2 linked regions of the Homo sapiens genome follow. The protein of the gene in region 2 interacts with the protein of the main gene of each other region in a pairwise test. Each region holds a gene or a part of one and is shown on either strand. Other genes may lie near its edges.

Region 1 (7,327 bases), on a different chromosome or scaffold from region 2:
TGCCCCCTCTTCCTTGGCCCGCCATGCCTGATAGGATCAGTTACGCTCCCAGCCCCCTGAGAAAGCCTGCCCCGGCCCCGCTTTGGGGCTCTATGAGGGTGTCTCTCCATCCCCGCTTCACTGCCACATGCCCGCAGTGTGGAGGTCTGTCTGGGCGCCAGCCCTCCACTTGTCTTGTTGCATCTGAACTCATTTTTACTGTTTGGTGAGCATCCAGCCTTTACGGCCCAGATAGGATGAGGAAGCTAAGGGCTGCTCCAGGGATGATCTTGTCCTGCTCGTTTTGTCTATTGGCATGGCTCTGGGCTTTTCCTCAATGCTCAGACAACCTGGGGGACACCCCAGAACCTGGCGGGGATGCTGGTGAGGGGTGTTAGACTCCAAGGGAACCTGTGACATAGGAGGAGATCCATCCTGAGGAATGGAGCAGGAGGTGGAGATGGGGATAGGAGTGTGGTTGGAGGTGGGAGTGAGGAGATGAGGTAAGGAGGAAGGAGCAGGATGGGGTGGTGGTGATGGAGGCAAGTTTGGGGACGGGGATGAGTAGGAAGGGGGCTGGGCGGGATTGAAGGTGGGAATGGAGATAGGTTATGATGGGGAAAGAGACAGAGACGGGTGGAAGGGTCAGGGATGAGGTTGGAGTTGGGCACAGAGAGGGAGGGAGGGGCAGGGGATGGAGATGAATAAGCTGGAAAGACCCAATGTATTCTGGAACCATGTGGTTCGTGCTTCTGGGAGGCCCTCTCCCAGAGGTCATCTTGTCTTTCCCCAGCTCCTGGAGGTCCTCTCATCCTTCCCCAGCTCCTGGGCATGTTGCCAGCCCAACCCCACCCACCCCAGATCAATGGTTGCCTCTCCACTCAGGAAACCACCTCCTGTGGTCACATAGTCCAGTCAAACTCAACCTAAAATGCTGAGAACTTTCTCTGAACTCTGTCAGTCACTCCTGCTGCAGAAGCCAATCCTGGTTTCCTGAACTCCCCTCTGCCAGCCACAGCAGGGATGGCAGGCTGTGATTTGGAAGGACAGAGGGGAGGGCATACCTGCAGGACCTCGGTCCCCTCCATCCTTTTGTTATGGGCAGATGGGGAGGCAGGCAGAAGTGGACCGCAACTTCGTCAGAATGTGGAGTCAGAGAGAATAAGAGGCGCAGCGAGAGTGGGGCCTTTCTGTCCCTGCCAGCGCCCAAGCAACCAGGGCATTTCATTGTGACTTAGAACAGTCTCTGCCTATGTGCCTGGGCCCTGTGCAGGCAATGGGGGTTCTGCTGGTCCATGAAGACCAGGTGTCAACTCAAGCCAGAAAGGGAGAGGTTAGACATCAGGAAGGACTTCCTAGCTAGAGAAGGTGAAGAGTCCAAGGAAAGAGGCGATATGTTGCTTTCTTAGAGGCCAGATGGGACTGTCTGGGGGATGGGGGGAAAGGAAGGCTTTCCCTGAGGCAACGGATGGCACATGACAGAAGGTGCATGTCACCAGTGGGCTTTCCCCCTTGTCTTTAACTTTCCTAAGCCTTCTCGCGATGAAGCCTTCTCACGGTGAAGACGGCTGTTGGTTGGAGGCAATGTGGCGTCAGTGCGTGGATGAGACAAAGCTGGGGAGCAGGGAGGGGTCCTAAGCCCCCTAATTTTTCTCTAGTTTCCCAGGACCCACTGGTCCAGAAGATTCTGGGGCTCCCTGAGCCCCTGGGAAATAAAGTCCTCTGAGAACTCCCTGGCATTCCCGGGAGAACAGGTTTCTGGCTCTGGGAGTGAGTGAGGCGCCGGGCCTGGGGGTGCAGCGTGCCTCGGCAGGCCCTGGAGCCGGGAGCTGAGCTCGCACAGGCAGCGCGGGCGGGGCGGGGCTGGGCGGGGAGCCGGGAGGACATGCGCCTCTCCCTGTGGCTCCTTCGCCTTTGAGGATCCCCAACCTGGGGCAGCCCTCACCCCGTCTGCCCCTCTCCAGGACTCAGCCTGGCTCTGTCCCTGCCTGGCTCACCCTGGACCCCTCACAGAGCCACAAGAGAAAGGGACCAGGATAGGAGGCCCTGCCCCTTCCCCCATCCACTCGGGGTGCCCTTGTACTGCCTGTGTCTTGTGGTCAGGGAATGAGCAAGATGGTAAAAGGTTCTGAGCCAAGCCCGGTGGGGACAGGACTGCAGTGCAACGCCGCCCTCGGATCCGAGGAACTAGTGTTCCTCAGTGCGGGAGGAAGAAGGCTACCGGGCAAGCAGAGCTGGACCCTGCAGCAGTAAAGACTTCAGAGAGGCTCCAGGAAGGACTTCATGATTGTGAGGAAACTGACCAGATTTTCTCCTTCAGGGATTAGGAAAACTAGGAGGGGCAGCCCTGCCCGATGTGGGCAATGACTGGCATAGGGGCAGGGGATGGATAGGATGACTTCCCAAGATGAGCCCCTCCGCCCGGGTCCCTTCCCACTGACCAGTTGTGCATTGCCACAAAGCACATCCAGACATATCCCCCATGCCTGTAGGTGCCGAGAGAAGAGGCAAACACGCCCACTTGCTAGAGTCTACTCTTCATCCAACGGGCTTCTTTGGATATTTAGGGAGGGCCTGGGGGACTCCACGGGGAATGCCAGAACCTTATCTGAGCGGGTAGTGGGTGGGGAGGAGTCGGGGGAGCTGGCAGGGGCTTCCTGCTGCTTCGGCCACTTCCCTAAGGGCCTTCACTTCCCACGCCCCCAACTCTAGGCCCCAAAGGCCTCAGGGCTCCCTGCCTGGCCCAGCTCTGCTCACCAGGACTCTGCCTTAGGGGTCTTGCGGGAGAGAAATGGAGCTGGGGATAGGAGGCGACTCTGCCCTAAGCCCAGCATCAACTCATGGCCACAGCACCTGTTTGCCACCTGTCTGCTTCGCCACAAGGTGCACCATCTCCTTTCTGCAACCCAGGCCTCTGCATGGGCCCAGGCATCTAGACCCCAGCCCAGGCTGCGTGGAGATGTTGAGCAATTCCTTGATCTGCACACACCCTTGGTGCTCCCCAGCTCCCAGAGCTGGGCTCTCCCTTCTTCACCTGGAAAACCACTACATGGAGAACTTGGCCCCCTGCCTTTCAGCTCTAGTTTTCCAGATCTAACACTTTTGAGTCCTCATTTCCTCCCAGCACAGGGTGGGTGAGCGCATCTCCAACACACAGAGACACACACAAAATCCAGCACACACCAGAATGAGACCCACACCACAGCAAGAGGGATTAAAGTTGGACAACCTAGAAAAGGAACTGGAGGGGGAGGTGGGGGAAGGGGTGCCCCTTGGCCTCCAGGCACTCACCCGAATTCTGAGTCTCCCTTGAGCTGCAGTGAGAACCTGGGTGCTCCCCGTCACTCCTGAGCCCCGTTAAAAAGGCGAACGCCCTCCCCGTGCCCCAGCCCGGCCCTGCTGGCCTCCACGGCTGACTTGGGCCGGGGCTCCTCTTACCTGCTCAGTGAAGCAGGTCGGCGTGGGGGCCCGGGTCTGGGGGGCCAGGAGCTCTGTCCGTCTGTCAGTCCGTCAGCTCGGCCGTCCTGTGTCTGTGCTGACATCAGGTGAGGGGAGGCAGCTGCCAGGTGAGCCAATAATTATGATATCAGCTTCCCCTTGCCCGGAGGGGCTGCGCCAAAACGGGGAGAAGAGAAAGGTGACTAAGAAGCTAGTTTGCTCCTTGGCTCTTGTTTGACAGGTACCGGCTCCCGTGCCCGCCCCAGCCGCACCCTGGCCCCCCAACCCCTCCCTCCTCCTGAGCTAGCCCAGGCCCCCTCCCCTGTCCCTGCCAGTGCGCACAGCCTGTGGCTTGTAGAGGAGGGGGTTGTCCCGTGGCCCCCGCCTGCACTCCAGAAGGGAGATGTCGCCCCCCCACCCACAGGTGGGGCACAGGCCTGTTGGAGCATGCACGTGTGTCAGGAGAGCCTGGCCGCCACATGTATGCTCATGGAGCCCACTCATGAGGTTCTGGGGAACAGCGCTGGGTGGCAGCCCAGGGTTCTCTGAGGCACGGCATGGACAGGTTGGGCCCTTCAAGGGCCAAGCATTAGCACAGATTTGCTGGGAACTGTCTGTCCATGGGGCCGGCCATCTGTCTGTCTCTCCACAGCTCCCGCAGCACCTCGAGGGTGTCTCCTTGTGGGTGGGGGCGTGTGCACCCACTGGAGCATGTGCTGGTGACTCCCATCTCCCTCTCCCTCAGGGGCAGATACATGCGAGTCTGTCTGCATCTCTCCCTGGGTCTGTACATCTGTCTCCTGGGTGGGCGTGTGTCTGCATGTCTTCCCCTGTGTCTGTGTCTCTGTGTCCCCGGACCCAGGCCCGTGTGTCGTCCGTGTGTTGACATGCTCATGTCTGTGCACACGTCTCTGCTGTGGGTCAGCAACCTAGTCCTGTGTGAGCATGTGGGTGTCTGTGGGGGTGGAGATGGGGGCTCCCTGGTTCTGTGTCTTCATCCCAGGCTACTCTTCATTATTTGGAGGATAGAAACAGAAACCTGAGTGGCTGTTGCCCTGGTCTCTGGCCCCTTAGAGTTCATGTTGAGGGTGAAGCCCTAGGAATTGGCTTCCCTGGTCCCAGCTGGACTCAGGCCTGGAGCCTGTCCCTGCTCCCTGACAGCTTTCTCTGCTGTTCCCCCAGACCCTGTCCTCACCTCCTTCTCTCTGCTTCCTTTTCATCTTCTTTGCCCTCCATCCCCTTGTCTCCTGTCCCTGGTCATTCTTTCCCTCCTCCATCTCCCTGACCCTTGCACTGGCCTCTAAGCCCACTTGTGTCTCTTCCTGGAGCTAAAGGCTCTAAGGACCTAGTACCAGCACTGCTGCCCAGCAAGTTCTGGGATTTGGCTTCTGGCCTGAGGGTATGGACAAGTCAGCTCTTCCCCAGTGACTATCTCATTCCAAGGAGAGAGGTAATATCAACCCTGGCCGGGGCACAGTGGTGGTCATCTGGCACAAGTGTGGAGCATGCTAAAACATTTAGAGAGTTCTTAGTGGAGGCGGAAAATGTTCTGTACTAAATATCCATTTCAGAAAAGAGGATGCAGGGGCAGACAGCAATGAACCCATTTGTAAGTGATGGTTAGCTGTGTGATCTTCCATACTCCCCACTCTGAGCCTCAGTTTCCTCATTTGTTAACAAGGGAGTAATACTCACCCACAGGGTGGTTGTGAGGATTAAATAAATTTATATGTCTAAAGTTCTCAGCACAACCCCTTGTATATAGTAGATGCTCAGTAAACAAGTGGCTCCTTTCTCTTCACCAAGGCCAGTGGTGCTGGGAAAGAAATGAGGACGTGCTGGCATGCCCACTCCAGTATAAGAATTGTGTTCTGGGGTTAGGAGAGGGGCCCTGACTCAATCCACCTTTCTCTGGGACTCACAGTAGCAGTCAAAGCTCTGCTCCCTTAACCCTAATAGTCTACGGAGTTTCACAGTGAAAGGGCAGCTATCAAGACCTGGGTGTTTGCTAACTGCTTCTATCTGATGTACACAGAGCTAATTGTTATTTCTAGACTCACAGATATTTCTGTATGGATACTCTGGGCACAGAAAACCACAAAAGTTGTAAGTTGAAGGCTGCCATGGTTGTTATCAATGAACATTATTCTGAAAGCCCCAACCAGTACAATAAGAGAAAGAAATAAGGCATTAATATAAGAAGGAAGGATGCAAAACCTTCAAGAATTACAAATGTTGTGCTTATTTAGGAAATCGAAGAGAATCGACTAAAATACTATTACAACAAATGAGAGAATGAAGTAAGATAGCAGAATATATCAATGTATAAAAATCAAAACCATTTCTATACAGCTAAAACAACCAATTAAAATAGGAGATAGCTGGGCACGGTGGTTCACACCTCAGCAATTTGGGAGGCTGAGGCGGGTGGATCTCTTAAGCTCAGGAGTTCAAGACCAACCTGGGCAACATGGCAACACCCTGTCTCTACGAATAATACAGAAATTAACTGGGTGGGGTGGCACGCGCCTGTAGTCCCAGCTACTTGGGAGGCTAAGGTGGGAGGATTGCTTGAGCCAGTGATTCAGAGGTTGCAGTGAGCCGAGAGGTTTCGGTGAGCCACTGCATTCTAGCTTGGGGGACAGAGTGAGACCCTGTCTCAAAAAAAAAAAAAAAAAAAAAAAAGAAAGAAAAAAAAGGAGACAAAAAGATTTAGCTCACAAAAATAACAATACAAAATATCCAGGAATAAACTTAATAAGAAATGCATGAAATCTACATGAAGAAAACAATACATTTTTACTGACAGACATAAAATAAGACCTGAATAAAAAATAAGGGCATATCATGTTACTGAACTGGAAGGCTGAAAAAAAAAAAAAAAAGTAAAAAAGAAAAAAAAGGCTAGGCATGGTAGCTCATGCCTGTAATCCCAGCACTTCGGGAGGTGAGAGGATCGCCTGATCCCAGGAGTTTTGACACCAGCCTGGGCTACAAGGCGAGAGACCCTGTCTCTAAAACAGCAACAACAGGAAGGCTGAATATAATATTGTAAGGATGTCAGTTCTCCTCTAAATAGAAGCTGAATGTAATTCAAATCAAAAGTCTAAAGGATTTTTTGCCCCCTAAACTTGACGAGTTGATTCTATAGTTTGGGGGAAGGGTAAATACATGAGAATAGCTTGGAGCTTTTTGAGAAAGAAGACTAACAGAGGTAACTTTCCCTGCCAGTTTTCAAAATGTTCAATAAGGCTTCCATAATTAAAGCTGCAACTTTGATACAGAAATAAATAAATTAATGGAAGATAATAGAGTCCAGAATAAACTTGGATATTTGTGAGAAATGGGAATATGATAACAAGGTATTTTAAAATAGATATATAATAGTAGGGTATTTTACTTTATTTTTCTGAGACAGGGTCTCGCTCTGTTGCCCAGGCTGGAGTGCAGTGGCAAGATCATAGCTCACTGCAGCCTCCACCTCCTGGACTCAAGTGATCCTCTCACTTCAGCCTCCCCAGTAGCTGGGACTACAGTTATACCATGCTCAGTTAGTTAAAAAAGAATTTTTTTTTGTAGAGATGGGGTGTTGCTCTGTTGCCCAGGCTGGTCTCAAACTCCCAAAGCACTGGTATTATAAGCTTGAGCCACGACATCTGGACTGTAAAGTATTTTAAAGTAGCAAGTAAAAAATTTAATAAATGGAGTTGGGGCAATGAACTTTCCATTGGAAAGAAATAAAGTTAAATCCTACTTCACACTGTACATTAAAAAATCTAGATGGATTAACAATCTAATGTAAAAATGAAAATCATACAAACAAATAGAAAAAATATAGGAAATATTTTTATGATTATGGAGTGGAGAAAGGCATTTTTAAACATGACATCAAATGCAGAAGCCATAAAGG
Region 2 (6,307 bases):
CCTGGATTCTGTTCTGAGGTTTGCCATTGTCCTAGAGCAGGGTATTCAACTTCTCCAAAGCCCAGTGCTCTCATCTGTGAAAAGGGGGCATCTCCACACCCTCCTCACAGAACTGTGGAGCATGTTAAACTTAAAATGATGCACACAAATTACCTGACATACAGTAGCTACTGAGAAAACCCTTTGTTACACTGTCTAGACAAACCGTGCTTGACCCTTTATACTCTGGAGTCTCCTGGTGCTCAGGTCTATGATGAGACAAAAACACACTCTAGGATGGTTATTGGCAGTTAGGTCCAGCCCAGGGGAGCTGCCCGTTTAGAGAACGCTGGGGCAAGTTGCCTAAAACCTCAGCTCTCCACACCATAAGGTCCATGGTTCCAAGGTACCCATTTCCTCTCCGAACAGAAAGAGTCCAGCTCTTCCTATAAAGACAAATCATGCTGTCCCTCCTAAGAGCTGCAAGCAAGGATAGAGACAGAGCAAGACACACGCTTTGATCCAGGATGTTCTGTGATGTTTATAATTAGAAAAGTTGCTCGGAACAGGATAGAACCTTGGGAAGGCTGATGGGGAAGCAGTCCAGACTAGGCTGGACTTTGAAAGAGGGCCCACAGGAAGGAAAGGAAAGGTGGGGCAGGGGGCGGCGGTGTTCTAAGTCCCAAGGCAGGTTGCTAGGAGGGGTGCTGACTCAGGCTGGAGTGTAATCTGGAAACATCATCTTTGCCCAGTCCCTGTAGGGCTGGGGCCCACTGGGCAGGTGTCCCCAGGGCTGTGAGACATCTTTATGAAGTTCTCCAGGTGGCTGTTACAGGCAGTGGGCATTCTCTGGCTGTCACTGGGTCTTCTGCAGGTCCTCAGGCCCAAAGGAGGAGGGCAGCAGCTCCTGGACCGTCATGACAATATACGTACCATCCGGCTTGGTCATGTACACGGGCCAGTTGGTGCCAAACTGGAAAAGAGGCAAAGCTGGCGTGAGAGACACAGCGTGGCTGAGGGGGCTGAGACGGACTGGGTCTGAGTCTGACTCTGCCACTGTCTAATGTTCCTCTCTTTACCTTGATTTTCTCATCTGTAAAAGGGGAATGACCATAATTGTACCTGGATCATAGTGCTGCAGGGAGGAGGAAACGAAAGAATGCTGTGAAACTGAACAGTGCATGGTACATCGTGAACAGGCACCATTCAAGACTCACCCAGGGCTTTATAAGAGCAACAGCTAACCCCTGGAACCTCCTTCTGCTATGACAAATGACAACTAACACCCGCTTCCCTTCAGTATCCCCTTTACACCTCACACCAGGAGAAGCTGCAAGCCTGCTACATATACTCAGTGTATTAGTCTGTTCTCAAGCTGCTAATAAAGACATACTTGAGACCGGGTAATTTATAAAGAAAAGAGGTTTAGGCCGGGTGTTGTGGCGCACGCCTGTACTCCCAGCACTTTTGGGAGGCCGAGGCAGGCGGATCTCCTGAGGTCAGGAGTTCGAGATGAGCCTGGCCAACATGGTGAAACTTCATCTCTCCTAAAAATACAAAAATTAGCCAGGCGTGGTGGCAAGCACATGTAATCCCAGCTACTCAGAAGGCTTGAGGCAGGAGAATCTCTGGAACCCGGGAGGCAGAGGTTGCAGTGAGCCAAGATCACACCACTGCAGTCCAGCCTTGGCCATAGAGCGAGACTCGGTCTCAAAAAAAAAAAAAAATAAAATAAAATAAAAAAGGAGGTTTAATGGACTCACAGTTCCACATGGCTGGGGAAGCCTCACAACCATGGCGGAAGAGGAAGGAAGAGCAAAGGGATGTCTTACCTGGCAACAGGCAAGAGAGGACTTGTGTGAGGGAACCCCCATTTATAAAACCATCAGATCTCATGAGACTTATTCACTATCACGAGAACAGCGTGGGAAAGACCCGCCCCCATGATTCAATTGCCTCCCACCAGGTCCCTCCCATGACATGTGGGAATTATGGGAGCTACAATTCAAGATGAGATTTGAGTGGGGACACAGCCAAACCACACCACATAGATACTGCACATGCGTGGTTTCATAATCTACCCTGTGAGGTAGGTGCTATCATGATGCCCATTTTACTGATGAGGAAACTGAGGCTTAGCAGAGTAAAGTCAGCAAAGAAAAATTTGTCTCTTGATCTTTCTCCTATACTATGAGGAGCACTGTTTGTTTGCTGTGTGACCTTGGGAAAATGATAACTTTCTGGGGCTCACTCAGTGTCTTGGTCCATGGAATGGTTTTAGGGATGGGAGAATGCAGGATGGTAGGCAAGAGGTTAATCAGCAGCGGTGTCATGACAAGAGCCCTGGAGGTGGGGTCAACAGACCTAAGCTCTTTCTGGCCAGGTATTCTGAGATGCAGAGATGATTCATGTAAAGCATCTCTATGCACATAGTAGGTGTTCAATTAATAGATGCCATTCTTATTGATTATGTTGGTAGCCAGTGACTGCTCAGGTCTGCAGCCTCCTGTTCTTCCACACTTCTCTCTGAATCACCAAGTTATTCCCGGGCACACTCAATCTTCTGGCTTTTTTAGAATTAATGTTTTAAGGAAGGAAATTTTTCTGCTTGACAGGCTGTGCCTAAGGGTAGGTACAGACAAAAGTTGAGCCGAGGGCGAGTTTACGTGTCAGGTCCCTGGCCCCAACGCCTCATCTCTTATCATTTGCATTTGGTTTCAGTTTCCCCCCTGCCTCCTTCAGCTTTTTCATTTGCCTTCTCTCGTTTGCCAACATCCAATCTGTTTGGAGAAAACAGCACTGAGCAATTGGACCACGTCGGGGCCTTGGGAGCCAGGGACTTGGCGCCCTGTTGTGGCTTCCTTATATGACCTTCGACATTTCCACCGTGCAGGGCAGCTATTTCTGCCCCTCTCAAGTGAGACAAATTCCACCGTGTAAATTCACTGCTTTCCCGGTGGTATGTTTTTGGATTTGGGAAATGTGTCTGATTTGCACTCCTGGCAGGAAGCAGGAGGAAGATGGAAGTGTCTGCATCCCCAGATGCTTTGAAACCCCACGGCACAAAAACAAAGCTAAAACAACCCCCTTTCTCCCAAAACACAACTCCAAAAGCAGAAACTCCCACGGTACAAGCAGCATCCACATGCCAAAGTACCATTATGTTTCCTCCATGGTTGAAAATAATTTTGTCCAACTTACAGAACCACAAAGACAGAGAGGCAGCCGTGAGGAGCACGGGCTTCAGAGTCAGCCTGATGGGCCATGGATACCCATATGTCACCGCCTGGCAGGGGGCCCTTCAGTAAGTCATTTTACTCCTCTGAGCCTCAGAGTGGTCACTGGGAAATGGGAATAACGACATGCATTTCACTCAGTCTTGGGGAGGGGATTAAACAAGATGCTGTAGGTATGTATTTATTTTTGAGACCGGATCTCGCTCTGTCACCCAGGCAGGAGTGCAGTGGCTTGATCACAGCTCACTGCAGCCTTGACCTCCTAGGCTCTAGTGATCCTCCTACCTCAGCCTCTGGAGCAGCTAGGACCACAGGCGTGCACACTATGCCTTGCTAATTTTTAAATTGTTTGAAGGGACCGGGTTTTACTATGTGGCCCAGGCTGGTTTTGAATTCCTGGGCTAAGGTGATCCTCCTGCCTCAGTCTCCCAAAGTGCAGGGCTTACAGGTGTAAGCCATCATGCCCACAAGATGCCGTATTTCGAGGGGCTCTTGATATTATGCTGGAGCTCAGGGCCTGTGGGATTCTCTAATCTTTTGGGACTCTAGAGGACACAGATCTCTTTGAGAATCCACAATAGTTACTGACATTCCCCTTTCCCCAAACGTACATATAAACATGAAAACCTTCCCCTGAGCCTGGATTAAGAACCCATGATCTAAACTATCCCTTCGTTTTCATTTTTTTGTTTTGTTTTATTCCTTTTTTTTTTTTTTTGTGGAGAACAGGGTCTCGCTATGTTGCCCAGGCAGGTCTCGAACTCCTGGACCCAAGCGATCCTCCTGCCTCTGCCTCCCTAATTGCTGGGATTACAGGCTGAGCCACCATACCTGGCTTACCGTTTTGTTTTTAGAGTTGAAGAAATTGCAGCCTTCCATCAAGAGGACTTTTATAAAAAGTCCTTCAAGTTTCTTCTTGAAAATATCCAATGGCTTACCTTTATTCCCTTTTTTCCCAATGTATATAATGTGATAAAATATATATAATGTAAGATTTGCCATTTTAACCATGTTTAAGTGTACACTCCAGGCTGGGCGCGGTGGCTCACGCCTGTAATCCCAGCACTTTGGGAGGCCGAGGTGGGCAGATAACAAGGTCAGGAGTTCAAGACCATCCTGGCCAACATGGTGAAACCCAGTCTCTACTAAAAATACAAAAATTAGCCGGGCATGGTAGCTGGCGCCTGTAGTCCCAGCTACTCGGGAGGCTGAGGCAGGAGAATTGCTTGAACCCAGGAGGCGGAGGTTGCAGTGAGCTGAGACTCTACCACTGCACTCCAGCCTGGGTGACAGAGTGAGACTCCGTCTCAAAAAAAAAAAAGTGTACACTTCAGTTTCCTTTATTCTTGGAATAAAATGTACCCTTCGTTCCATGGCCAGGCCCCATGTGATCTGGCCTCTGCCCACCCCTCTGACTTCAATCCCATTGCTTTCCTTCCACCTACCAGGCCCTAGCTCTCTAGCCCTCGTGGCCTTCTTGCCTCTTCTCAAATTCACCAAGGGTCTGAACTTGCTGGTTCTGAATCTCCTTTTTTGACCTTTGTCTGTCTCATTTTTTTCCTCATTATTTATATTTCTGCTCAAATGTCATGCTCAAAAAGAGGGCCTTCCTGGATATCTAAAGCAGGGGTTGGCAAACCTTTTTCTGTCAAGGACCAGACAGTAAATATCTTAGGTTTAGAGGCCATGTGGCCTTTGTCGTAATGGCTCACCTCTGCTGTGTCAGGGCAAAGTGGCTATGGACAATAGGTGAATGAATGGCCATGGCTGTATACCCATAAAACTTTATTTACAAATACAAGCAGCAGGCTGGATTTGGCCCAAGGGCTGTTGTTTGCTGACCCCAATCTGCAGTGTCCCCTGTTTGCCCGTTTGTCACTGGACTCCTTTTTTTTTTCTGCATTTTGTTTTCCTCTATAGCCCTCTTGACTCAGAAACGCCACTGTTTGTTTATTTATTTTGCTCCTTGTTTATCATCTGTCTCCTGCATTAGCCTATGAGCTCTGTGAGGGCAGGGCCTGGCCCATCTTTTCCCTGTGCCTCCCCAGAGCTACCTCAGGGCCTGGCACAAAGCAGACACTCACTCGGTAAGTATTTGTTAAATGAAGGAATAATTTCCAGTGACTCATGCAAGCGTAGGGAGGCCTTAGAAGTCAGCCAACCAAGCAAACAGGACAGTAGCTGTGTCTCCACGCCTGCCATGCCTGCCATGCCTGCAACTTGGCGTGGCTCCCATAGCCTGCGACAGGGAAGATATTTGCATTCCAGACAGCAAGAGAAGCTGCTTACCTCTCTCATGACTTGCCTGCAGGCCCCACATGGAGAGATAAAATCATCTTGCATGTCACTGGGGAAGCAAAGAATCAAACTCAAATTAGTCTCTCCCAAGGACTGAGGACAATTGCTAAGATTCAGGCCCTGAGACTCGGTCTGTTCCTGATTTGGGTCATACCCCATCAGGCAGTTCCTGATTCACAGATCCACTGTGTCCTGAAGGCTGAGAAGGCCACGTGGTGGCTTTCCACACTGCCACAAGGCAGGGCCATGGGCAGGACTTTCATTAGTGCCATCCATAAACGTTTACTGAGCACTTACCATCACCCACACCCGGGAATACAAAGGTCAAAGAGAATTTGTCTCTGTTATGTAAAAAACCAGCTGAGTTATCATGTTAAACAAAATGCAGCTGGGCTTGGTAGCTCACGCCTGTAATCCCAGCACTTTGGGAGGCCGAGGTGGGTGGATCACCTGAGGGCAGGAGTTCGAGACCAGCCTGGCCAACGTGGTAAAACACCGTCTTTACTAAAAATACAAAAATTACCCAGGCTTGGTGGTGGGCGCCTGTAGCTCCCAGCTACTCAGGAGGCTGAGGCAGAAGAATCGCTTGAATCCGGGAGGCAAAGGTTGCAGTGAGCCAAGACCGTGCCATAGCACCCCAGCCTGGGCAACAAGAATGAAAATCCTTCTCAAAAAAAAAAAAAATTGCAGAAGGAACACACAGTATGAGGGAGCTCATCCCTGCCTGTGGACTGAGAAGGAAGATTTTATGGAGGAGGAGGCATGTGTCCTGGTCCTTGGAGGAAGTGTAGAGT

What was found. Proteins that work in one complex are often made in the same cells at the same time.
Region 1: the proteins of CDA (region 2) and FOXN1 interact in binary tests that used the Homo sapiens proteins (3 or more experiments, as listed by UniProt).

Annotation. Positions count from the first base shown.
Region 1 is NC_000017.11:28,502,534-28,509,860, reverse strand, and holds the start of FOXN1 (forkhead box protein N1), read right to left. Parts: upstream 3,514-7,327; 5' UTR 3,418-3,513; intron 1-3,417. UniProt on the Homo sapiens protein: Transcriptional regulator which regulates the development, differentiation, and function of thymic epithelial cells (TECs) both in the prenatal and postnatal thymus.
Region 2 is NC_000001.11:20,613,097-20,619,403, reverse strand, and holds the end of CDA (cytidine deaminase), read right to left. Parts: intron 5,563-6,307; coding exon 5,505-5,562; intron 953-5,504; coding exon 836-952; 3' UTR 501-835; downstream 1-500. UniProt on the Homo sapiens protein: This enzyme scavenges exogenous and endogenous cytidine and 2'-deoxycytidine for UMP synthesis.